Homo sapiens: one gene and its partners. The protein of the gene in region 3 interacts with the protein of the main gene of each other region in a pairwise test. Each region holds a gene or a part of one and is shown on either strand. Other genes may lie near its edges. The genes, in order: SLC35B4, TMEM128, CLDN5 and VAMP5.

What was found.
Region 1: the proteins of CLDN5 (region 3) and SLC35B4 interact in binary tests that used the Homo sapiens proteins (3 or more experiments, as listed by UniProt).
Region 2: the proteins of CLDN5 (region 3) and TMEM128 interact in binary tests that used the Homo sapiens proteins (3 or more experiments, as listed by UniProt).
Region 4: the proteins of CLDN5 (region 3) and VAMP5 interact in binary tests that used the Homo sapiens proteins (3 or more experiments, as listed by UniProt).

The regions. Positions count from the first base shown.
Region 1 is NC_000007.14:134,292,931-134,299,960, forward strand, and holds part of SLC35B4 (nucleotide sugar transporter SLC35B4), read right to left. Parts: intron 6,669-7,030; coding exon 6,593-6,668; intron 3,537-6,592; coding exon 3,461-3,536; coding exon of another isoform or gene 3,382-3,460; exon of another isoform or gene 2,150-3,381; coding exon 1,903-2,149; 3' UTR 1-1,902. UniProt on the Homo sapiens protein: Antiporter that transports nucleotide sugars across the endoplasmic reticulum (ER) membrane in exchange for another nucleotide sugar.
Region 2 is NC_000004.12:4,238,216-4,245,245, forward strand, and holds part of TMEM128 (transmembrane protein 128), read right to left. Parts: intron 2,265-7,030; coding exon 2,106-2,264; intron 1-2,105.
Region 3 is NC_000022.11:19,522,497-19,528,545, forward strand, and holds CLDN5 (claudin-5), read right to left. Parts: upstream 1,760-6,049; coding exon 1,103-1,759; 3' UTR 531-1,102; downstream 1-530. UniProt on the Homo sapiens protein: Plays a major role in tight junction-specific obliteration of the intercellular space.
Region 4 is NC_000002.12:85,587,414-85,593,919, reverse strand, and holds the end of VAMP5 (vesicle-associated membrane protein 5), read right to left. Parts: intron 2,196-6,506; coding exon 2,058-2,195; intron 973-2,057; coding exon 763-972; 3' UTR 514-762; downstream 1-513. UniProt on the Homo sapiens protein: May participate in trafficking events that are associated with myogenesis, such as myoblast fusion and/or GLUT4 trafficking.

The DNA of each region.
Region 1 (7,030 bases), on a different chromosome or scaffold from region 3:
ATTTTAAGTAACAAAAACCCGAGGCAGCTTAAATGACTTCTCCAAGCGACCTGGTGACTCTAGGACATTTATCTCCACTGCTGTTGCTCAAATCCATCAGAGAATAGCTCTGGACAGTGGAATAAACATACCACACCATGGAATGAGCCCAGGAGACCTGCAGAGCCACGTCTCAGTTTAAGAACACAATGTGTGCACCACACACACACACATACATACACACACACACACACAGTCTTTGTCTATAGGCAAACAGAGAAGTGGCCGGTGAGTTCAGCTGCTTACAGAGGAGCATGTACTGGTATGTAAGGTTCCAGCTAAGTAAAGAAAAGGGATGTGAAAGTGCAGCCACTTCCGTGCCCTTTGATCACACACAGACTACACAAGAGCACACAGAAGCTACGCATATTACAGCAACAGCGTTCCTCCTATTCAAGATTGTCCAGTGAAAGGAAAACTGGACCTCTGAAATGATTAGCAAAGAGAGGCATGTTTCCACACACAATAAAGCACATCCAACCATCCTCAATACCCATCGAGAATGCTAAGATACCTCATAGGACAATAACAACTTTCAATTGTCGTTGAGGTTTGACCTGATTTACACATCACACACTATATATCTCCATCTATGCATTCCCTTGATGGGTCGTGACTCTTAACAGAGTCATCGGGCAGAGGGGAATCTCCTGGTGGTGAAGCCTTATCCTCCCACTTGAGACCCACCCTTCTGCCCTGTGAGTGCCCGGCTGGGCCAACAGGGACAGCCATGGCTCTTGCGGTGCTGAGCAGGGCCATCCTGCCGTCACCACTGTGGCCTAGGCAATGGGCTTCAGGGGTGTCCAGTCCATAACAACCTTTCTTTTTTTTTTTTTTTTTTGAGATAGAGTCTCACTCTGTCACCCAGGCGGGAGTGCAGTAGCACGACCTCAGCTCACTGCAACCTTCATCTCCCGGGTTCAAGTGATTCTCCTGCCTCAGCCTCCCAAGTAGCTGGGATTACAGGCATGCGCCATCACACCCAGCTAATTTTCGTATTTTTAGTAGAGATGGGGTTTCACCATGTTGGCCAGATTGGTCTTGAACTCCTGACCTCAAGTGATACACCCACCTCAGCCTCCCAAAGGGCTGGGATTACAGGTGTGAGCCACCGTGCCCGGCACAACCTTTCTTTGTTATGAACACTGTGTCTGCTGTGAGATATGCTGCAGGGCCGCCCTAATCACAGAAAGCAATGGATAGAAGCATCTGACTTTTGCATAGAAAAAAAAAAAAGCAAAATGTGGGAAAGAGGAGTCCCACTAGTCTTGCTGCACTGTCACTGGGAATCAGCTCAGGGGAACATCTCTTTCCTTCCCAAAACGCTGGAGGAAGTCCAGCCCTGCTGTTACTGGTGTCTCGGTTTACTTGGCCACTCCTGGTGATAGTGGTGCCTGCAGCGTCTGACTGACTGTGAGGTGCTGCTGAAGAAGGAAAAGGTGATGGGAGACAAAAGGGATAAGGTCACAGGATGACAATGACTGCTGTAGCAGAGATGCATTACAACAGCAAGAGAAGGGACAATCTTTTCCAAGACCATGGATAGTAAGCCTTTTGTTCAGGAGACTCAGAATTCAGAAAACAAGAATAATACTGAATATGTCGGTAAACAAAACAGAAATAAATGAATGGGCTGTTCAATAGTCCAGAACTGTTCTTTTTTCTATTTTAGGGCTGAGGGGTTTCTATTTAGTCTACATGTGTCAGTCTGAGCAACGTGAGAAGTCCCCTCCTGAAGATTTCCTTTTGCACGGCTGGCTCAGCACTGCGGGTAGCTCGGCATTAACAAAAGCGAAACGGTGGTCAGACCTTCACAGGGTCCCACCCTCACGACGACACTGGTCTACGTACTCCAGACAGGCCTCAGTTCTTCTTGCTGTCCTTCTGAGGCTCACTTTTTGTGGTCCCTAGGTTGTTCCACACCTCTGTGTACATTAAGGTCCCAATGAAGACAAACAAGGTGCCCAGCCAGTGCCACAGGGTGAAGGGGTTCTGGAAGTACAAGATGGAAAAGATGAGGCTCACAAATTTGCGTAGGGTCACGACGAGCGTGACGGTGAGGGAGGCGCATTCTGTGGTGAGGATAAACACACCCCGGATGCACACGTACCTGGAGGAGTGGAGTCAAGGTAGTTTTCTGTAGACTGTACTTGGGGGATCAGTGAGAGAACCTTCTGGCATGGTCCCTGGTTTAACTTCTCATATTCTAAGAAAACATGAAGGTCCGCTACGGCAGCTCTGAGGCTCCTCCTGGGGAGAACCTGCAGAACAACTCCTGTCCTGCCATTCCATTTATGGGTACCAATTTGAAACCGCCAAAAAACCCCCAATTATTCTTATGTTGGAGTCTTCCTATGGTTACAATGACAGGCACCTCCAAGATAATGACAGAGGGTGACGCTCTCGGTAAGGGTGATCCCATTCACCTTTATTTATCTTGCCTCCAGCCCTTCTATCCCCTCCTCCAGAAAGGGACTCTGGCAAATCTAGGAGCTGACTTCAGAGGAATGAGGTCAATCTCGATTCGTTTCACTATTTCAAAGACATAATTATTTTTATAATGAAAGTAAGGTCATTCGAAATAACCATTTTAAAAAACGAAAACTTGATTACTTTGAAATTTCTTTTTTTTTTTGAGACAGGGTCTTGTTCTGTTACTCAAGCTAGAGTGCAGTGGAGTGATCAAGCTCACTGCAGCCTCGATCTCCTGGGCTTGAGCGATCCTCCCACCTCAGCCTCCTAAGTAGCTGGTAATTTGAAATTTCTTTCAGGACTTTGCAGCAGCTTGTGATCACTGGAAATATCTTAGGACACCAAAAAATCACAGGTACAAATCACAGATGATTTATGCTATACAGTAGTTCTTTGTTTGTTTTTTGAGATGGAGTCTCACTCTGTTGTCCAGGCTGGAGTGCAATGGCATGATCTCAGCTCACTGCAACCTCCACCTCTTGGGTTCAAGCGATTCTCCTGCCTCAGCCTATGGAGTAGCTGGGATTATAGGCACCCATCATCATGCCTGGCTTACTTTTGTATTTTTGTAGAGAGGGGGTTTCACCATGTTGGCCAGGCTGGTCTCAAACTCCTGACCTCAAGTGATCTGCCCGCCTCGGCCTCCTAAAGTGCTGGGATTACAGGCGTGAGCCACCACACCCGCCACTATCAATCAATGGACTCCTACACTTCCACTCAGAGCACTTCCTCCTGCTGCCCTGTGCCTTACTGACCTACTACACCACTAGCATCTCTTCTGCCCTCTACAAGGAGTTCCCTGAATTGGTCTCTGTCTCCAGCTTACCGCAGAATAAATCCAGCGAAAATCATATTCAAGTCAACACACTGTTAGAAGAAAAGAATGACCATTCCTGTGCCAAAAGAACCTGATGATGACATAAGGGTGACGGCACAGTCCAAAGGATACTGAGTGATGATGTTCATGAGGAGGTAGAACCACATGATGGGCAGGGTCACTCCGATGACGGGAATTTCATATAACTCTGTAGAGGTTACAAGAGGATATAGCCATATTGCTTTTTCACAGCTGAATTTTTCATCTTTTGAACAGGGTAATACAGACTGAACATAATAGGAACAGCAACATTGTCTTCCTTGCAAATAGAATTGGATCACGCATCACTTTACTTGCCTTGACTCCAGGCTATAGCAGCCACTAAAGTCATTAAATTGGTTTCTTAAAACAAATAATAGTTTTAATTTTTAAGGAAGTGTTTTACCATTTGCCTGAATAGTACCTCACTTTACAAAGAAAGACTGTGAAGCACAGAAAAGTTGAAAATGATAAAATGATATAGACAGCCTTAACAACTCAACACAAGAGGAAAGGCGGCTAGCAACTACTGTTTGGAAGTATGTTCAATCACACTAGTAATTACAGAATTCCAAAGTAAATAAGACTGTACCATTTTATAGCTACAAAATTAGCAATTCAAAACTTATTAATTTATTTTTGAGACAGAGTCTCACTCTGTCATCCAGGCTGGAGTGCAGTGGCATGATCTCAGCTTACTGCAACCTCTGCCTCCCAGGTTCAAGTGGTTCTTGTGCCTCAGCCTCCCAAGTAGCTGGGACTACAGGCACACACCACCACACCTGGCTCATTTTTGTATTTTTAGTAGAGACGGGGTTTCGCCATGTTGGCCAGGCTGGTCTTGAACTCCTGACTTCAAGTGATTCGCCTGCCTTGGCCTCCCAAAATGCTGGGACTACAGGCTTGAGCCACTGCGCCTAGCCAATTCAAAATGTATAAATAATATCTTAATCTGGCAAGTTGGTAATGGAACTGGCAGCCACAGGTTGGTGGCAGTATAACTTGGCGTCATTCTTTAAAAAAATCAATTTCATAATCCTTATTAAGGGTCTATAAAAGTATTCCTACCCATCCTTCAGAATTAATCCTAGTTTAATTCAAAGGAAGAAAAAGGTTCTGCACTCATTAAAGTACTATACATAATAAAGAATAACTCTGAATCAAAATCAAATGCCCAATGATGGTGCAATGGCTACATAAACAAAGGCACTTTCATTAGAGGAGGCATTGTACATTTGATAAAAACAAAAATCATAGAGATTTTATAGCCACATAAAAAAAACTCAGAAAAAAAGTAAAAAACAAATATAAAATTATATCCACACAAGGATTACAGCTATGTAAGAATCTCTGTAAACAGACATGGTCTAGAAGAAAATCAATAAAAATAAAATTGGCAGATGTCCAGGTTGATGGAACTGTGAATAACTTTAAATATATTCTTACATTAGTTTTAGGCCAGGAGTAGTGGCTCACGCCTGTAATCCTAGCACTTTGGGAGGCCAAGGCAGGAGGATCCCTTGGGCCCAGGAGCTCGAGACCAATCTACCATTCTGGGCAACAGGGAGGTCCTGTCTCTATTAAAAGACACATACACACACACACTCTCACTCTTATGTTAGCTTTATATAATGACACTTGCACAGTAAATTTGTGGGAGGAAATAAGATGAAAGAGAATACAGACATAGAAATCCTCAATGGCTCAGTTTTTTTGTATTACTAAATTTTTTTCAGGTTTTGAATTATACAGCATAATTTAAGAAATTCTGATACAATGATGCTGAGATCTGGTAAGAAATATTAATTTTCTTTCACGAATAAAATGTCTCATATATACATACACACGCATACACATAAAGACTAATTTTTGAAACTTAGTTCTGGATCAGTGGGCAATGCCAATAATCTGGTATTCTATTATCTTTGATATCCTTAGCAAGTATTGAAATGAAAAGGAAGTTAACAAACGTGATTACTTTTTAATAACTTCAGAGATACACTGAATCTCTGAAGGAAAGAGACAATGAATATCACTTAAAATATTTTGACAGATATTTAGCTCTCTTGGAAAATTCACGGATCTCAGAAACTTAATCTCAAGGAAAGCAAGAGAAGGAAAATGTATCTTTAACTTGGAAATGATTCTGGAGAAGTTGAAGGCAGATTCTGTAAAACATTTTATCATAAATACCTAGCCCTGTGATTTTTAGAAGCAGCATTCTAACAACTAAATCAATCACATGGAATTTGACAACATTTTTATTTCAATAGCCCTTTGCTACGTGGGACTTCTCAGAGATCTTAAAAACTGTTGTGTTAATATGAAGAAATGATTATTTGAGTAATTCAGAGCCTTACAAACTCTTACACACTACCTTCACATTTTTTGGGGGATGGGGCAAATGGGAGAGGCAACACTATAAATGCAGAGAATAGTCATAACTTCACAACTCATGCTCAGATAGCAAACAAATGTTTACTGAGCACCTACTGTCATTCTACAAAATGCACTTAAGCATTTGAGGTGTGTGCAACATAAAGCCTTGATTTTAAAAACGTTTATTTGTTCCTTGTGTGTTCAATGTGTCTATATTATACTCTGTTAGTAGATAATCAGATCATACAAGTGATCCCTTTCAAGTTAACTGACAATCTATAGCTAATTTATTAACTGGCCAGTTTAAAAAGTAACAGCTAACTTACACTAGACGCTTGAAACTAATTTTGCTTATTCATCTGCTGCCTGTCTCATCTGTAACTAGGAGAAAAACCTTGTCATCATTGAGCTCCCCTCTTGCTCTGCTCCATGGCAGCTTGGGCTGGATCTGTGAGCAGCTCTGCCTTTCATGGCAGAGAAGGATAAACAGCAGTTGAGAGAGCTGGACGGCTGCCCAACTTCGCAGGGCTCCAGTCTCTGCAGTGTGCTGTAAGTATTCATTTGCATTCTCAAAACATCAAACATTTCACATTCAAATGCAAACACACAAATTCCAAAGCAAAATGGAAAACTCGAAGATATTCTTTTACTTCATTTGTAAATAATTGAGAAACCCCTGTAAAAGCTTTTGCTGCTGCAATGACTGGAAAGTGGAATGGAGACATTTTCGAAAGGAACACATGATTTGAATAGGATTATGAAAAAGGCCGAGGTCAAGTCAAGAGTAAAACTGAGACTCTGCCTCAGAAACTGTCAGGTAATTCTACTGTCTAACCCCAAACTCACCAGACTTATTGAATAGAACTGCATGGTCATAAATATCAGAAGCCAAGAAGACGAAACCCGGAAGTGGAAGGGCGTGCTATGGAAAGAAACAGGTCAGATAAATGTAAGTGCAAAAACATTATAGAATAATTAGAGTAGCTTTACAATGATTAAAAGTCGTACAGGTTGTTTGACAGCAATACAAAGAAAAGCAAGTTAGACTTAAGTTAAATGTATACAGTGCTTCTTGACCACTTCACCTTGTATGGCAGGATATTAACCCCCAAATTATGGTTCTTGCCCTTATAGGGTCTGAGGGCCATCACAGACAAAGCAAACAATGGAGCCAGCATCCTTTCCTCAACAACAGGGAATGGAGAAATTTAAACATATAGTCTTTCTGCACAAAAGGATTTGCTAAATATGCAGACACAATTTAATTTGCTTTGATTGATCGTG
Region 2 (7,030 bases), on a different chromosome or scaffold from region 3:
TAGTTTCTGACTTCAACAATAATTTAAATGGCTACAGCCCATTTTTATGACATCACACACTAAACTATCATGGTAAAAAAGACCAAAATATTGTCTCTTAAAAACAGAATGAAAACAGTTATCACTTATAAGCTGCTATTATATCTTTCATTGAGAAAAACACTATTCCTGTCATCAAAGTAAAATTAAAACACTAAGTATAAAGATTTTTAATGACTGAAATTTCTAAGAACAGAATAGGGAAAACTATATTCAAATAAGTTCAGATGGTTATTGGTTTTAATATATAATAGTTTGATAAGTATGAGTATTAAATAACTATAATCACAAATCACACTGTCTAAAAAATTAACATTTCTGGACATGATCTTACCCTCATGGGAAAAAGTAAAACAACGTATCTGCATGCCCCCACATACAGGTTAACAATAACCACATCACACTGTCAAACAACCTTGAACTTCAACTACAGAAAATAAGTCATAGAAAGAATATGTATAAAGGTATATGGTTCTTCCAAAATAAAAATTCAATTAGGCCGGGGGTGGTGGCGCACGCCTGTAATCCAGCACTTTGGGAGGCCAACACAAGCAGATGGCTTGAGGCCAGGAGTTTGAGACCTGCCTGAGCAGCACAGCGAAACCCCATCTCTACAAAAAATACAAAAAATAGCCAGATGTGGTGACACATGCCTGTGGTCCCAACTACTCGGGAGGCTGAGTGAGGCAGGAGGATCACTTAAGCCTGGGAAGTCGAGGCTGCAGTGAGCTGTGATCATGCCACTGCACTCCGGCCTGGGTGACACAGTGAGACCCTATCTCCAAAAAGAAAAAAAAATCCAATTGATATAAAGAAAGAAAAAACTAGAGAGCTGCACACAACATAGGAAAAGTAGTTTTCTTTCTGGTTGAATCATAGGATATATTTCCTTTGTGTTTTCATGTAATTTACAGATTTTTTTTCCTCAGTGAGCAAGTATTACTTTTATAAACCCAAAAAACCCTGTATTTTTCATTGAGTATTTAATTAACTTATGAAGAAGGTTATTCATTGTGGCATTGTTTGGGTATAAATATAACGAAGTCCAACAACAGAAGACAGGTTAAATAAATCATGTTATGTCCATGCTGTGAAAACTATGCAACTGTTTAAAAAAATGAGACACATCTATATGTACCATTATGGAAGAATCCCAAACTATAAGGATCCACTGAAAAACAAAAGGAGAAAAGGACAAACAACCACTTTGGAAAGCAGTTTGGCATGATTTACTGAAGTCAAAGGTACGTACATCCAACAATTTTACCCCTTGGGGTACATATATATACATATATACATACATCTCTACACCCAACAGAAATGTGTTCACTGTGCTACAAGAGCCATGTACAAGAATGCTCTTTATAGCATCCTTCATAGTAACCCCAAACTGAAAAAAATCTAAACACAATCAACAAGGGAAAAGAAAACTGGGATTCAATTAAACAATGGAATGCTAAAGAGCAATGAAGATGAGTCACTGTTCCCGGCGACAATATGAAAGAACTGCACACAATGCTGCACACAGCCAGCTCAATGTGAAGGAATACACCCTGTACAAATCCATTTCTATAAAGTTCAAAAGCGTAGCTGAAACAAAAATAGAATATCTAATGGAAGCAAAGCAAGTAGTTACCATGAAGGTCAGGGCAGTATTTACCTGTGGCAGGAGGGAAGGTGTAGTAACTGGGAGGGAGAATGAAGGGGGTTCCCAGTGTGCTGGCTCAGTTTACACCAATGCTCACTTCATGAGAATTCATTCACTAATTCATTCATCTCAGTTTTTTTCACTTTTCTATATGTACTGTATGTCATAATAAAATAGATTTAAAAAGCAAAATGCAGAATATGTACAGAATGTCACCATCTGTGCTTTAAATAACTAGATCCATAAATAGAAGGAGAAAGAGATACTAATCAAAAGGGAACCAGAGAGCATGAATGACCAGGAGACTATTTTTCTGTTTTAACTTTTTTTCTTTCGAAGTTTGGACCAAGCATATCACTATCTGATCAAAAAAAAAATTTGTTGTTCATTCCTGTTAGTCATTTCAAAGTTAACTTACCAAATTCCTGCTGCAATAAAGGAGGCAGTGGTAATGGGTATCAAGGCTGGATACTTGACATCATATTCTCCAATTCCACAATACCATTCCAGGTAGACTATGCAGTAAAATGCAATTGATAAACTGACAAGCAACAAGGCACTGCCACAGAGAAACCAGCTGTGGAGATAAAAACAGTAAGAGGTCTGACAGCACTTAATGAATCGTCACATATCTTAAAAGTTTTTACTAATAGCTTAAAAATCTGCTTCTAAGAATATCAAGTGTTGCAGAGGGAGCCATACTTAAACAATCCATGCTTTCAGAAAGTCTCAATCTATGGGAGATGGGGGTGAGAAAAAGAGATACACAACTCAGGAAAGAATGAAAAGTAAGACTTGAAATACATGCATTTATATATACACTCTCATCAGCCAACCAACCAAGGGAAAATTCTGGTCATGACAATGCATTTTCTTTAAAAATACAAGGAAGAGGCCGGGCGCAGTGGCTCATGCCTATAATCCCAACACTTTGGAAGGCCGAGGCAGGTGGATCACCTGAGGTCAGGAGTTCGAGACCAGCCTGACCAACACGGAGAAATCCTGTCTCTACTAAAAATACAAAATTAGCCAGGCGTGGTGGCGCAAGCCTGTAATCCAATCTTCTTGGGAGGATGAGGCAGGAGAATCGCCTGAACCCAGGAGGCAGAGATTGCAATGAGCTGAGATGGCGCCATTGCACTCCAGCCTGGAGTGCCTGGGCAACAAGAGTGAAACTCTGTCTCAAAAAATAAAATAAATAAAAACAAAAATACAAGGAAGATAGTGGCTTTCTGGTTGTTTCTGAAGTTTTGAGTGTGACAGGATTAAAGAAGTTTATCAGTGGGAAACTTCATTCCTCCAAGTTAAGTGGACTTTCTTGGAATACTGAAAGACAATTAGGAAGATCAATAATTCAAATTTTCTCTCATAAAAGATTTCTAAATGAAATCCTCCCATTTTCAAAATATCTTCTACTCACCACCTCACCCTCAATGCCAATGCCTTTTTACTCCCTTCCAATTCCACCTGTGACCTGATTCAGCAAGAGTGAGGCAACCTGGACAACCCCTTCCCTCCACCCCAGCTGGACTTGGGGACTGAAATGCCTTTCCCATTCTCCCAACTCAATCCAATATCCCATCATCATCTGCTTCTCTATGGGAAAAGCCTGACAATCCATGTGGAAGAGAGAGGGAGAACAGATGGCTACAACAGATAAGTTACAAAGGCACAAAGTGAACTTCCAATAATGGCAAGGTTCCGGATTCCATGAAGGCTTTTTACGATGATGCAATTCTGAGATTCGGAGTCATGAGAGGCTGTAGAGGGAAGGGGTTAAGAGCACAGCCTCTGAAATCTGTCTGTATGGGTTTGAATCTTAACTTGAGCAAGACTAGTTTTGTGACTCTAGGCAAATTACCTAACCTCCGTGTGTTTCAGAAATATTGACAGTACTTAACTCAGAATAGCTGTGAGAATTAAATCAAGTGGTCAGCAAAGTGCTCCTCACAGCTGACTCTCAATCATAATCATTATTATTCCACTCAAGTTATTTTTATTTTCATTCATTTATTTCTGAGCCGGAGTCTTGCTCTGTTGCCCAGGCTGGAGTGCAGTGCTGCAATCTCAGCTCACTGCAACCTCCGCCTCCCAGGTTCACCAATTCTCCTGCCTCAGCCTCCCAAGTAGCTGGAATTACAGGCACTGGCCACCACGCCCAGCTAATTTTTGTATTTTTAGTAGAGATGGGGTTTCACCATGTCCATATTGGCCAGGCTGGTCTCGAATTCCTGACCTCAAGTGATCCACCTGTCTCAGCCTTCCAAAGTGCTGGGATTATAGGGGTCAGCCACCATGCCCAGCCATCACTCAAGTTATATCTATGAGGAAAAAATGTCCATGTTCATCTTTAGGAGTCTTCAAAGACCTCTCTTCTGCTAGAGCATGCAATCTCACTGGGGGGAGTATCGCCCCCAAAGTGAAGAAAAAAATATGGCTCTAATTGTATGTATAAAGCATAGATATGCATGCAGTATATAAATGATATAGTTTATCTAATTCCACATTCCACAGGAATGATTAGGAAAAAAATGTCTAAAAAGGCCTTTTATCATTACCCCTAAGGAGTCTTTTTAGACATTTTTTTCCTTTGCCAACATGTGGATATGAGAAAAAAAAAATTTTTTTTTTTTGAGACGGAGTCTCGCTGTTGTTGCCCAGGCTGGAGTGCAATGGCACGATCTCGGCTCACTGCAACCTCCACTTCCCAGGTTCAAGCTATCCTCCTGCCTCAGCCTCCTGAGCAGCTGATATTACAGGTGCCCAACACCACACCCAGCTAATTTTTGTATTTTTAGTAGAGATGGGGTCTCACCATGTTGGCCAGGATGGTCTTGAACTCCTGACCTCAGGTGATCCATCCACCTTGGCCTCCCAAAGTGCTCGGATTACAGGCATGAGCCACCATGCCCGGCCTAAGAAAATTTTTTAAACTGCCTGAACAAAATATAATACTATCAGTCAGTGGTCCTCGGCCCTGGCTTTATATCACAGTCACCTTGCACCTTTCTAAGAGAAACTACCTAGTCCCCAGTTTCCAAAATTCTGGGCCTGAGCATCTAGGATTTTAATTTTACTTTCTGTCTTTAACTCCACTGTTGATTTTGATGCACACAAGCCGAGTATTTTAAACTGTGATTTCTAAAGCATCACAGTGTTGTTTTGTTATTATTTATTTACTTATTTAATTTTTTTAAGACGGAGTCTCGCTCTGTCGCCCAGGCTGGAGTGCAGTGGCGCGATCTCGGCTCACTGCAATCTCCACCTGCTGGGTTCACGCCATTCTTCTGCCTCAGCCTCCCAAGTAGCTGGGACTACAGGCGCCCGCCACCATGCCCAGCTAATTGTTTTTTGTATTTTTAGTAGAGACGGGGTTTCACCGCGTTAGCCAGGATGGTCTCGATCTCCTGACCTCGTGATCCGCCCGCCTCGGCCTCCCAAAGCGCTGGGATTACAGGCGTGAGCCACCGCGCCTGGCCTGTTTTGTTTTTAATATGGACCTGCTCTCCCATCTTTGAACAATATAAAGAACCTTAAGGCCTCAAGCTTCTAAACTTAGGCTAGAGCCAGAGGAAAAAGAAATCACCTCAGGCGTCAGAAGAACGAGCCATTTTAGCCATTTTCCAAAAGCAGAACTCAGCCGGCACTGTCTTTTGTGCAGCCCTCTCATTTCATGGCTGTTCAATACCCCCCAACTCCCCTTAATGAGTCCTTCCCAAGAAAACAATGCGACTCAAAATCCTCAGCCTTTGAGAATGCATTTCTGCCTTTTTCTCTCTAAGATGACACCTTGTTGAGGACAGATCTATGACTTCTACTTTCTTTCCAACCCCCACAGCCCTGGTCCCAGTGTCTGCGTCCCGGCTTTGCCACACAGCAGTTATGTGGTCCTGGGCACTCCACTTCACTGCAGTTGCCCCCAAATATCTTATGTGTGATCATTTCTTACTCTGCCATTTCTCTAAACTACTAAAAATACCCAATATAAGGACACAAATACAGAAGTTCTCTCACATCTCCTAAAACCTCAAAAAGGTCTCAGTCCTGAGGCTGACCTGGACTAGATATCCCTCCTAGATGCTCCCATGATACCCTGCGCCTACACTTACAAAGCACATACCATGCGGCCTGGTAACTTGTCTGCTGCAGCCTAGAATGAGCTGTTGGAGAGCTAGAAATGCACCTTCCACGTGTTTGGCACTGACAGCCAAACACATCTCAGCCTCCATAAAGTATCTGATGAAGGAAAGAGCAGCTGCTATTGGTGGTGGTTAAAGTACCCATCCCCTCCAGCCAGGTGCAGTGGCTCACACCTGTAATCGCAGTACTTTAGGAAGTCAAGGTGGGAGGATCACTGGAGCCCACAAGTTTGAGACCAGCCTGGGCAACATGAAGAGACCTCGTCTCTACAAAAAATAAACCAAATTAGCCAGGCATGGTGGTGTGCGCCTATAGTCCTAGCTACTTGGGAGGCTGAGGTGGGAGGATCACTTGAGCCTGGGAAGTCAAGGCAGCAAGCCATGATCGCACCACTACACTCCAGCCTGGGTGACAGAGTGCAGCGAGACCCTGTCTCAAAATAAAAATAAAAATAAAGTATCCATCCCTCTTTTCCCAGCCCAAGTTCTAAGAGAGATGACTGAGTCAAGCTGATGAAGATTAAATGTCTGTTATACTGATGCAGCCGTGGGAAGAATATGGCTTTGGTGAGTGATGACAAAGCACTTCCTAATACTGGGTCTCTGACACCCAGAAACAGCCTTACCCACTGGGTTCCAGGTCAAAATGAAAACCTAGAGACCTTTTCCTGTGGGGACTGCCCCTGTGGAATGACACCATGGGAAGGCAGACCAGACTCTGCGCTTCCTATGGGCAGCCGACTTGCAGCAGAAGAAGGTGCTGAGCTACCTTTGTCCAGTTCTTCATCACACACTCAATCAGTCACGCCACCTCCCACAAAGGAGTGAGTGACATGGAGGGGCAGAAGATGGGAGTGTTTAGGGAAAGTTTCTCCCCTAGAAAGTAGAGGACAGTTTAAATAAACTCCCCTCTGCCTACTTTCCCCTGTGGGCTTTTTCCTTGTGGCTCGACAGTCTCCTCCGCCAGAAGTCACTGCTCCTCCTGAAGGCCCTTGAGGAGAAATCATGTGTCCTGCCATGATACGAGGGGACCACAGTCCTGTCTGCATCTTCCTACCCCCACTGGTACTTCCAAATTATTACTCTTGACCCTAAGCACACCAGCCCTCCCAATGCCATGATGCTCACCAACATACCTCTCCCTTCCATTTCTTATCCAAGGGTCTCCACATCACTCTCCAATGTGCAGTAAGGACCCTAGGAT
Region 3 (6,049 bases):
CTGTTCCTGCCCCACCCACCATTGGAAAGGGCCTGGTCGGGGATTCTACAGACCTCTGTGGCCACTTGATGGGGCTTGGGACTAGGCAAGCCCTGAGAGGGCAGTGGAAAACCTCACCCTGTGCTGTGTGGGGCTTGGCCCTTTCTGGGAGAAGCCAGCGGCCTGGCTGCTCACCCCCAGCACTTCCCACACCGCAGGACCCCCACTCACCAGCCTGTGTTGAGGGCGCTTCACCCCGCATCTTCTGCTGGGGTCTGCCGCTGCCCCCGCCCCTGTCCCATCCCGGGCCCCAGGGCCCCATGACGCAGCAGCTCTTCTGACCGCAGATCCCGCCTTTCTGGGCTGTAGTAAGTGGTGGCTGTGTCTCCCACCTGGTGGGAAGGTGGCAGGGAGGATGGGGAAAAGAGCCCCAGCCTCCAGCCCTGGGAGGAGGTCTCCACAGGAGTCCTTGGGAGGGCGGGGCTGGTGGGTGATGAATGGGGCTGCTGGACACGGAAGATGGCTGGACAGAGAACAGGACACAGGTGGGAGAGAGTTCAAACCATTTACTAAGCAGATTCTTAGCCTTCCCACTCCCGCCCTCTCTCAAGCTCCGGTGCCCACAAGCCTTGCCTGGGGAGATGCTGGAGTGAGACCGGGAGGTCCAGGCCAAGTCACTGGTCCCTGGGCTCGGGCCCTGCCGATGGAGTAAAGACCAGCTGTACACATCTTCCGGTGGGGGCCCTGGGCTCTGCATCCGCCCCTCCGAAGTCAGCAGGAGCCTCTGGGAAGTAAGGCAGCAGCCAAGACCCCCAGCGTCTTGGAGGGGAAGCGAAATCCTCAGTCTGACACCCGCTCTGCCTATGGAAACAGCGCCGCGCACAGAAAAGGAAACTTCATTCCGTCTGTTAAGGGCAGGGCCGGGCTAGTGGCAGGAGAAGGTCAGCTGCGGGCGCAGGCAGGAGCGGATCCAGGAGCCGCGTCGGGGCGCAGAGCCGGACGTTCCGAGGAGCCTGCGCGCCGCGCTACCCGGCGGAAGCCGCGGTCCATGCGGGGCTCCCCAGGCTTATCCAACGCCTCGCAGGCGTGGCTGGCAGGAGGGGCCCGGCCGTGCCCAGCGCCCTCAGACGTAGTTCTTCTTGTCGTAGTCGCCGGTGGCCGTGGGCCGCCGCGGCGCTGAGTACTTCACGGGGAAGCTGAGGTCGGGACGGCCGGTGCAGACCCAGGCGCCGCAGCACAAGAGGCAGCCGCCTACCATGAGCAGCGCGGTGGCCGCCCAGCCGATGTACAGCGCTGCGCCCAGCTCGTACTTCTGCGACACGGGCACAGACGGGTCGTAAAACTCGCGGACGACAATGTTGGCGAACCAGCAGAGTGGCACGAGCGCCAGCAGCCCGCAAAACAGGTAGAGCACGCCTCCCGTGAGGGCCACACGCGCCTTGGCCGGGCCCGGGGCCACGCAGGTGGTGCACTGCGCGCCCGCCAGGGTCACGAAGAGCGCAACGAACGCCAGCAGCACGGCGCTCACGGTGAGCGCCCGCGCCGCCTGCACCTCGGTGCTCAGAGCCAGCACCGAGTCGTACACTTTGCACTGCATGTGCCCGGTGCTCTGCACCACGCACGACATCCACAGCCCCTTCCAGGTGGTCTGCGCCGTCACGATGTTGTGGTCCAGGAAGGCGGTCACCTGCCACATGGGCAGCCCGCACGCCAGGATCAGACCCCCCCAGCCCACCAGGCACAGCACCAGGCCCAGGATCTCCAACGCTGCGGACCCCATGGCTAGAGGCGAGACGCGCACCCGAAGGCCCGCAGAACCCCCAAGGCCGTGCTGCGCGGCGCCCTGGGCGGGCCCTGGTGCCTTTGCGCCCGCGCTCCCGGCTCTTGGCCCCAGTCCGTTTGCCCCGCGGGTCTGTCGCACCTCCTGGGTCTGCCAGCTCCTGCCGGGGGGTACCCTCTTTGAAGGTTCGGGGGCGGATTCTGTCCCCCGGGCCCGGCCCCCCGGCCCGAAGCAGCCAATCCGTGCGCGGGTCATCGTGCCGCAGCCAATCACAGAGCCTCTGGCAGCTGAAGTTAGGGAAACAACGGCTCTTGAGGGGTAGCTGAGGGCGCGGGACCGCTCCCCGCCCGGCAGCCGCCCCCAGCCCCACCCGCCGTTGTCCTAGTCGCGGCCGAGCGCATTCTGGGCTGGCCTAGGGCGCGCTTCTTGGGCCGCCTCCCTGCGCGTCCCGGCCCCGTCACTTCAGAAGGCGCTCGACCCCCAGTCTGCACCACCCAGTCCACTCCCACATCCCCGACTGAGCCGGGTGGTCTCTTCCACTCGAGCCAGCTCCACTTCCCTGACCAAGGTTTGCAGAAGCCCCCCACCCCGTCACCGCCGTAGAGGCCCTCGTAGGGGGGCTCTCCAGAAAGCCCGCCCCGGGGTCCAAGCCCCACCCAGGCCCTTTCTCGCACTCTCACTCTCCAGCCCCGCTCTGAGTCCCAGCACTGTCTCTCTCATCCCATGGCAAACAGAGAGGCCAGGCAGGCGTGTGGAGGTCAGGCCCAGGGCCCCAGCCTCACCCCCCATGCCACTCACTGCCTCTCTGGAGCCTGAGTCTCTGGCAAAAAGCGGTGGCACAGGGGCTTTCCCCCTGCCTGGCGACCCCCACTCTCCCAAGCCGCAGGGGCTTCCCAGACCTCTCAATCTTCACAGGGGCTGCTCCTCTTCCTGCGGTACTGCCCGCACCCCATCCTTGGGGGCCCAGTTCAGGTGACACCACTTCAGGAAGTTCCCAGTGACCCAGCACACTGGGTGTAGCACCCAGGGGCAGTGGTGGCCCCAGGCCTAGCAGCCTGCTCTGGCCTTCAGACAGGAGAGACAAAGGGACACGGAGGGGCTGTGCCCTGCCCTCCCACCAGTGGCGATGGTGTCCCTGGCACCCCAGCCCCCAGGCCACCCTCCGGAAGCCAACTTGGAGTTTCCTGGCCAGGAGGAAGAGCCCCCATCCTTGCTGGAGGAGGGAGGCGCGGGATTTCCGGGCATTCTTCTGCACAATGGCCCAGCCATTTCTCGAAAGGTCCACTGGTGTGGACACTCCGGGCCCCCTGAGGCTCAGGTGGGGGCACGCGGCTCCAAAACCCACAGCCCCATGGGGGCACCAGCCCCTTTCTAGTAGTTCTTTCCCCAGTCTCTCTCGGCCCCTTTGTTTCCAGTAAAGTTTGAACTCCAGGCCCTGGACTGAGGCCACTGGGTGCCCAGTTCTTTTATCTGGTCTGTGCTCAGTTCCATTGGACAGGGCCCTCCATAGAAAAAGTATGGCACTGAGGCTGGTCACAGATGTGGGAGGTTTGATGACTTTCTCCCTCCTGGGGCCCGGTTCCCTTCTCCCCCTTCAGATGGCTCTGAGATGGTAAATGAGATAAGGCCAGCGTCTGGCTCACCTAGTGTGGGGAGGTTCTGAAGGCAAGTGTGCCCAGCCCTGAGGCTGGAAGGAAATCATACCCTCTTTGCTCAGCCCCACGTGGCCTCTCCCCACCAGGTATGGCTCTGAGGACCACTGCCTTCTCCCAGCTATCACTTTAGTCACTGCCTTCCTCCTGCTGCAGACCCATGGGCCATGCCCCTTCCTCTACAGACCCTCCTGGACATCTCCTCCTCTGTGTACTCCAGGGGTACAGCTGACCCACCCACCCTCTCACTCTTACTACCCCCTAACCCAAGCCCAGGGAACTTCCCCAGATCCCCCTACTCCCAGCCCTTCCATGCCACCATCTTCCTGGGATGACTGCTGCGGCCTCCTCAGGTCATCAGGGACCTGCCCTTGCCCAGCTAGGCCACCCACCCCACCAGGCCCCTCTCCTGGGCCTCACCCTACCTAAGACCCTCCATGGCTCACATTGCCCATGGACGAAGAGCCGACTCCCAGAGCAGCTGGATTGATGTGTACCTGCATGCGCTAGGACTGGCCAGTCCAGCCACCAGTCTTGGTGCGGCCCTGAGCACACACTCTGCCCCAGGAGACTTACCTGCCTATGGGCCTCACATGGGCCGTCTCTTACCTTGGCCTCTTCTGCCCGCAGCGTGTATCTGTCAGGTTGGGTCCTGCTCATCTTCTAAGATGTGTTGCCGAGGTCATTTCCAGGAACACCTTGCTGCACCGTCCCCCAGCATTGCTTTTAGAAGCTTGAGCTGGACCTGTCCTTTTGCTTGCCGACTTTCCCACCTAGTATCCAGGAATAACCTCCACAGGGTGGCTGTCTTCATGCGTCTGTCCTGCACAGGAGGCTGCCTGTTGCCCTCTAGCCAGCTTGGAGCTGCAGCCAGCCCAAGGCTCTCCCTTCTCACCTGGCTGCCTGTTTTTCTTCTCTCCTAGCTGTCACCCTAGGGTGGCCCCAGCAAGCTCATGTTTCTTTGGCGGCAGCCTCACAGCATCTCAGGGACGTGGCAGAGGAGTCTCAGGCTTCACCTTTCACAATCTGGTTTCTACCCTGACCCCACTATGTTGGTCGAGGCCCCAGGCTGCAGTGGAACAATGCCAATGCAGAGAGGCCCAGAGAGGGCCGCAGGGGCTGACGCCACCCCAGACAAACCCACCTCAGATGGAGGCTGGCCTCTGAGTAGCCCAGGCCAGACTCCGGAGGGGCATGAGGGTGCACCCACCTTTCCTGCCACTCATGGAGGGTCTGCTCACCTACTTCGTGGCAAGCACTGTCTCTAGGCAGAGCACACAGCACAAGAAGCTCCTGCCCAGAAGGAGCTGACAGGAACCTATCAACCAAGAACTGGGCAGGAAAGACAGTGGTGAAGGCCTCTCTGAAGAGGTGACATTTCACAGGGATCCGGGGAAGAAGTTCCAGGCAGAGCAGAAGCAATAGCCAGTGCAAGATCCCAGAGGTGGGAAGGGGCTCGGCGTCCAAGGGGCAGAAGCGGCCTTGTGTCCACAGTGCCACAGTGGTCCAGGGCCTGCAGGTGGAGATCGGAGGTGTCCTGGTTAGGCAGGGACACAAACCCCTGATCTCTGGTAAAGGGCCCTTGGGGCAGAGCACTGGCCAAGGCCACCTGCTCACCCCCAGCCATTGTTCTGCTTTCCCAGGGGAAGAATGGCAGGATCTCATTAATTGTGTGTGAGAAGAGCCTGAGTCTGCAGAAAAGCCAAGTTTATCTTGAGCAGCTGCTGGCTGACCCTGCCCCAGGGTAATCCCGTGACCTTCCAAGGATAAGCTAAATTTAGGCTCAAGATTCCTGGGGATTTGGGTTTGGGAAACTCCTAGTTAACAGATTTGATTTCAGGGGAAGTGAAGAACAGCGTTTCTTCTATCTTTCAGTTTTGAAACAGTTAAGGATGTGTCCTTCTATTTCCGCAAATGTTTGCAGAGCCTCCAAGCACAGTGTGGCCTGGTGCTCTTTCTTGACACAAGCCAGTACTCCTGCAGGCCGAGAGCAGCAGCTGGGGTCCTCCTGCATCCCTGACCACTGCACCAGGTGCCCGAGGCACCCTGTGTGGGGCCCCTGGGCGGCTGTGACGATGTGAGCAGCATCCAGAGTGGACAGTGCCAGACTCGGCGGTTTTGCGGGCATTGTTGTTACTCTTTGTGGTTAAACACAGGCATGGAGTCAGATTCGCTCCCGCAAGCAAGAAACTTTCTGGACTAGTGAGGTGGCCTCTCTGCCTTAGTTCCTCACTGGTAACGAAGCCCCCCAATGGTGGAGGCTGCGAGGCTGCAGGGGAGGCCGATGCCAGTCCCGGTTCTCTTCTGCCTTTCCTGAGTGCCATCCACCCAGGCTCCCAGGGCCTTCACAGCTCATCCAACCTCAGCCGCACCCCTCAGGGTAGTCATCGCTGGCTGTTAGTCAGAATTGGAGGTCACTGTGGCTTTAACTTCCCCAGCGGGTGAGGGAGTGGGGGGCAGGGAGCTCTGGTGTGATCCACGAAGGGTCAAGGGTTCTATAGAATGGCAAGCCAGGCCAAGCGCAGTGGCTCACGCCTGTAATTCCATTCAGGAGGCCGAGGTGGGCGGATCACTTGAGGTCAGGAGTTTGAGACCAGCCTGTCCAACACGGTGAAACCCCGTCTCTACTAAAAATACT
Region 4 (6,506 bases), on a different chromosome or scaffold from region 3:
GGTGAAACCTTGTCTCTACTAAAAATACAAAAATTAGCCAGGTGTGATGGTGGGCACCTGTAATCCCAGCTACTTGGGAGGCTGAGGCAGGAGAATTGCTTGAACCCAGGAGGTGGAGTTTGCAGTGAGCTGAGATAGTGCCATTGCACTCCAGCCTGAGCAACAGAGCAAAAACTCTGTCTCAAAAAAAAAAAAAAAAAATTGGTGAAGTGCTTTCTTCTTTGTCATCGCATCTACAGTCTCATTGGTCCTCTAAGCATCCCCAAGATGACAGAAAAATAATAGATTTCATTCTCAGAGAAACAGGCTCAGATGGGGAGGACTGGTTCAAGGGTCTGCTTTGGGGGCCATTGTGTTCTTGCATCCACACTCCCTGTCTGTGTCGGGCTGGATCAAGTAGGGAAGGGAGAGGAAGGAGCCATCTCCCAGGGGTGGAGTCCTTTGGGTGATGGGCTTTTTAAGCAGCCCTAGGGGTAGAGACAGATGGGATTAACCAACCTGGGGACCTTCACACACAGATACCAGCTTTTAATCAAACAGCAGTTTTTACTGAGCTCCAGGTGGGGCTGGCCCAGCATGGCCAGTACAGCAGGCTGCCCTCAAGGGCCAGTCTGTGGCATGACAGGAAATGCAGGGGTGCACATGTTGGGGCTGCCCTTTGGCACTCACTGGGGTGGGTCAAGGGAGAGCAAACACCAAGGTCCTCTGGAGACCAGAATCGGCCAGTGCAGCCATTTGGCTTCTCCTTCAGGACCAGCTGGGTCAGTTCCCAGGCCCTGAGGCAATGCCTGCATCCTGGGTCCGTGGGGCACTACTGCTGTCACTGCTCTGAGGGAGAAAGACGACCAGCAGCACAATCAGGATGATGAGCAGGACACCAACCACCACCAGCCCCACGCAGATCCGGTAACGGATGTTCTCCCAGCACTTCTTCTGGGCCAGGTTCTGTGTAGTCTTGTTGAAGGTTGAGCTCTGCGGATACCCCCAGACACAAAGTGGGAGTTAGCTGGCACCCTCTTGGCCTGGGAGCCAGCTCCTCCCAACCCCATCTCAGTAAGGCTTAGTCTCCTCCTGCATCCTCCCCATCTTGTCTACTTTCTTTCTTTTTTTTTTTTTTTTGAGAAGGAGTCTCTCCCTGTCACCCAGGCTGGAGTACAGTGGCACAATCTCAGCTCACTGCAACCTCTGCCTCCCGGGTTCAAGCAATTCTCCTGTCTCAGCCTCCCTAGTAGCTGGGACTACAGGTGCACACCACTGCGCCCGGCTAATTTTTGTATTTTTAGTTGAGATGGGGTTTCACCATACTGGCTAGGATAGTCTTGAACTCCTGACCTTGTGATCTGCCCACCTCGGCCTCCCAAAGTGTTGGGATTACAGGCGTGAGACACCGCGCCCGGCCTTGTCTGCTCTCTTTCTATACCACCTGCCGTGGAACCCTCCCAGCCTGACTCATCTCAAACACCGGTGTGGCCCTTGACTTTCAGCCCTAGTGTCTCACCCTCAGTTAACAATGCCAGTACTCAGGCTGGACACAGTGGCTCATGCCTGTAATCCCAGCACATTGGAAAGCCAAGGTGGGAGGATCTCTTGGATCCAGGAGTTCAAGACCAGCCTGGGCAACATGGTGAGACCTCATCTCTACAAAAAATCAAAAATTAGACAGGCATGGTGGTGCAGGCTTGTAGTCCTAGCTCTTCAGGAGGCTGAGGCAGGAGGATCACTTAAGCCTGGGAGGTAGAGGCTGCAGCAAATATGATTGTGCCACTGTACTAGCCTGGGCGACAGAGTGAGACTCTGTCTCAAAGTAAAAAAGAAACAAAAAACGATACCAGTTTTCTACCTTTAAGAAGGTCCACAGCTTCAAACCAAGGCCTTCTTATCTTGTGGGGTCTATCTGTTGCATGTCTAGGCTATGGGTGCCTGAGGAAACCCAGAGGCCCCACACTGGCCCTCAAGAAGGCCTCAACCCCACCAAGGAACTGGAGATCCTGAATACAGCCCAAGAGAGACTTTCCCAATCCTCTCCCCTCCCCTCCATGCTCCCCCAGGCCTCACACCATATCCAGGAGTTGGTCTGAACGCTGCTGCAGTTCGGCCAGCTTCACACCACGCTCCAGGACCTTGCCGAAGTTGTTACGCATAATTTCCGTCACCTCGTTCGCCTGCTGCTGGCACCGCTCCAACTCTATTCCTGCCTGGACACCAAGCCCGAGGTCAGGGCTGCATGAGGCCCCCACCTGGCCCTCATCTGCCCCTGAGATCTAGAAGCCTCCTTCTCCCCCTGTAGGTGGGTACAGCATGAGAGTAACAGCATCCTTCGTGTAAGGGTATGATGTGTGCGGAGTGAAGGTCTGGCCTTCGGGGTGAGTGCGGCACACCTTAAGTCTCACAGGCTCCTCCCCTTGCACGTCAAGGCAGGGCCTAGGACCTAGGTAAGTCCCGGCTTCCAGCACCTCAGCTTCCTCTAAGCTGTCCCAAGGTGGGATCTTCCCAGGACCCCACCCTCCCACAAAGCTGATTCTTTTCTCACCTGCTCCAGAATGGCGTCTACCCAATCAATGCACAGCTGCCCTAAGGTTTCCCACTGGCCTAAGAAGGCAGCAAAGAATGGGTAACCAAGCTACCTGGCTGGAACACACAGGGAGGAGACCTACCCTACAGGCTAGAAAGGTAATTTTGAAGCAGCACACATCATAGTCTCTGCCTAACCCCTCTATCCCCAAACTGAGAAGCTCAGATCTTCCTCTTTGGGCCTCTGACTGGTCAGGCCAGTTCTGCCTCCTGGCCTGATCCTGCTCCCTATATCACTGCTCCAACTTCCCTCTCCGTCTGGGAACCTCAGTGGTACCGGTTTTTGGCCTCCAGCCTTCCACTCAGCTGGGGTCCTCACTGGGGTCCAACTTACAGAGATGAGACTAACTCTTGGATTTCCCAGCCTGGGGGGCAGCTTTGCCTAACAGAAAACACCAGCTCATTTCAGAGGACTGGGAAGGGAGGTCTTGGATCCAAGCTGGGGAAGGTTGAAATGACAGGGGAGAGAGAAAGTCTGGGTCATGTGCAAGAAAGGCACTGGGCTTTGGGTGCACGTAACAGAGAGAGACACCAGGCAGGAGGCCCTGGTATAAGCCAGAAGCCTAGGAGCAGGGACATTTCAGGGAGATGAATACCAGTGGATTAGCAAACCACAGAAACTCCTTCCTCTTAGCCTACTTCCCCACAGCCCATCCCTGTTCCCTTCCCCTCCTTACAAGAAGGGCAAGCTTCTTTTCCTGCCAGCCCACGTCACCCATTGTCTACAACAGACATTTTGGCACTTGACTGAATTCCACTTAAAACCAGAAAACTTAAGTGTTAGAAGAGATCTGGTGGTCACAGAGGGCTACCTCCCACTCAGCCAAGAATCCTCCTTCAGGATCCTTGCAGCTGCTTGGTATACAGCCTCCAAGAATTCCCACTGTATGAGTCCTATCTCCCCAGCTGGACCACAAACTCCCAGAGGGAGGGCAGGGAGCAGTGCCCTGCCTTTGTCCACCACCATCCCACCGGGAGGCCAGCACAGTGCTGACCATTGCAAGCAAGGAATCAGTGAGTGGGCCAATTACGATACAGCCTAACCAAAAGCAATTCTTATTCTCAAGAGATGTTCTCCCAGCATGTTTTTCTAGCCCTGCATGAGTTTCGAGGGGCAGGCATTTGAAACCCAAATAGGTCAATATTTACCCATGAGCTAGAAAAGCAACCTGCTTCAAGAGAGGTCAGGCAAACCACTGTAGGGGAGGCTGCGCTCACAGGCTGGAGGAAGCAGTAAGCAGGAAACACAGAGGAACAACGAAGAGAGCAGGGAAACTGCACTCTCACCTTTTCCTGAGTCAACCGTCATCACTATTATTACTACTATAGCATTCAACAAGGCTCCATCATTCAATCCTTTGAACTTCCCCACATTCAAATACTCCAAGGCAGGCTGGGCGCAGTGGCTCACACCTGTAATCCCAGCACTTTGGGAGCCCCAGGCAGGCAGATCACTTGAGGCCAGGAGTTCGAGACCAGCCTGGCCAACATGGTGAAACCCTGTCTCTACTAAAAATACAAAAATTAGCCAGGCATGGTGGTGCATGCCTGTAATCCCAGCTACTTGGGAGGCTGAGATGGGAGAATCGCTTGAACCTGGGTGGCGGAGGTTGCAGTGAGCCGAGATCACACCACTGCACTCCAGCCTGGGCAACAGAGCAAGACTCCATCTCAGCAAACAAAACAAAACAAAAAACAAAATTAAATAGTCCAAAGCAAAAACTTGAGAATGGATAAATACTCGAAAATAAGAGTCACTGCTAGAGACTGGGAAAATGCTGGATATTATCTTTTTATTTTCTATTCTAAATGCTACAGCTGTTGTTACCTTATTTTTCAACAAGGGGTGATATTTGGGTCACATTCTCCAAAGAGCTGGCTGTGCTTCCAGCTGTAATCTGGACCAGTCTCCCCCAATGCGAAGCCAGGCCTGCCTGGAGCCAAGATGGACCCAGGCCTAAAAGAACACATTCGCTCCAGGGAACACAGAGGCCTTAGACTCAAGTCTCGGGCCCTCCTTGGCCCCCACTCAACCAGAGGAAAAAGGACACTGACTATATACACAGGTCTCTGCTGGCACTGTGAGAAATAAAGCTCCAGGGACCCTGGAAGGAGGTAAGCAAGAGGACAAGGGCCATACTGCCTTACGCCACACTGTCACTCAGCATAATGTCTGCAGACAGCAGAGATGTGATAAACAGTTCCTGAATAAATGGTGCCTATATTTTTAAAGATGGGGTCTTGCTATGTTGCCCAGGATGGTCTTGAACTCCTGGGCTCAAGCAGTCCTCCCACCTCAGCTTCCCAAAGTGCTGGGATTATAGGCATGAGCCATCATGCCTGGCCTAATTGTGCCTATTCTTAAAGAGACCACTTTGCCCTGGGGAAAAGACACATGTAATACAATTAGAGAAGAGTAAAGAGTTACACTGTGCGATACAGATAGTAAGTATCAGAGCTGCCACAGAGAGGGTGCCATGGTGGGGGCGGGTGACCCCTTGAAGGATGACATGGAGCAGGGACATTCTTGCACTGAGAGATAGGGATACACCCTGACAGTGAGGACCAGGCAGAGGATGGGAGGGATGGGGCAGGACAGAAGGCAGAAAAGGTCAGGTAGAGAAGACTGGCTCCAAGCGACTGATAAAACTTAAGAGCTAGTGTGGTTTTTGAGCCACGGGTGACAGTGAAGAAGTGCTTCAGGATAATTTCTCTATTGGTGGTAGACAGGCACAGATAGAAGTAAGAAAATGGCAGAGAGGCCAGCCAGAGGGGTGGAGAAGTACCATCAGCAAGACTGCCAGGAGATGGCCACCAGGCGGGAGAGGGGTGACAAGCAGAGCGTGGAGAAAGGAAGAAGGGTGAGACAGGCATTTCTGAGACCTGAGGCCAGAAGCCTGCAGGGCTTGGAATTTTGAGCCAGGGCGAGAGGGGAGCAGTTGTGTAATTGCCAGAGAGTGGCAGTTACACAGGAAATGTTCTTGACAGACTGTTGCCCCCTGTACAGAATATCCCCTCTATGACACTCAAACCTCTCAGGTTTTTCTGGGCTCAATCTCTTTGATTCCTCCTATGAAAACGCAGTTCTCAAAACCACACCATCTGGGCCAGGCACGGTGGCTCATGCCTGTAATCCCTGGACTTTGGGAGGCCAAGGTGGGCAGATCATGCCTCTACCAAGAAATACATAAATTAGCCAGGCAAAGTGGTGCCTGCCCATAGTCCCAGCTACTCGGGAGGCTGAGGCAGGAGAATTGCTTGAACCTAGGAGGCAGAGGCTGCAGTGAGCCAAGATTGCGCACTGCACTCCAGCCTGGGCAAAGGAGTGAGACCCTGTCTCAAGAAAAAACAAAGAAACAAAAACAAAAAAACCTCCCTATCCTAACTCTCCTTGTCTCCCCATCTCCTGTCTAGTATCCAAGAAACTGTTCTAACTGTCGTCAGATGAATGGGCGCAAGTACCGGTATAACATTGCCTCCCTAAGTCGGCACTCAGCTCAGAGACTAGGAGCAGGGCTCTGCTTTGCACCCGTCTGTTGAAATCCTGCTTCTGCCACTCACCAGCTGAGTGACTGAGACTGAGGATATGACCTTTCTGACCTCCACTTCCTCTTCTGTAAAGTGCTGATAATAATGTTAGCTAAGGATTATGTGACTTATTGTAAATCAAAAGCTTAGCACAACGCCTGACACATACTAAATGCTCAATAAATAAGAGCTATTATATTGATGTGGCCCACATTTCCCTAGCTCCTTTTTTTTTTTTTAGCAGTCAGATCTCAAGAATTGTACAATATGGCCAGGTGTGGTGGCTCACGCCTGTAATCCCAGCACTTTGGGAGGCCGAGGCAGGTGGATCACAAGGTCAGGAGTCTGAGACCAGTCTGGCCAATATGGTGAAGCCCTGTCTCTACTAAAAATACAAAAATTAGCCA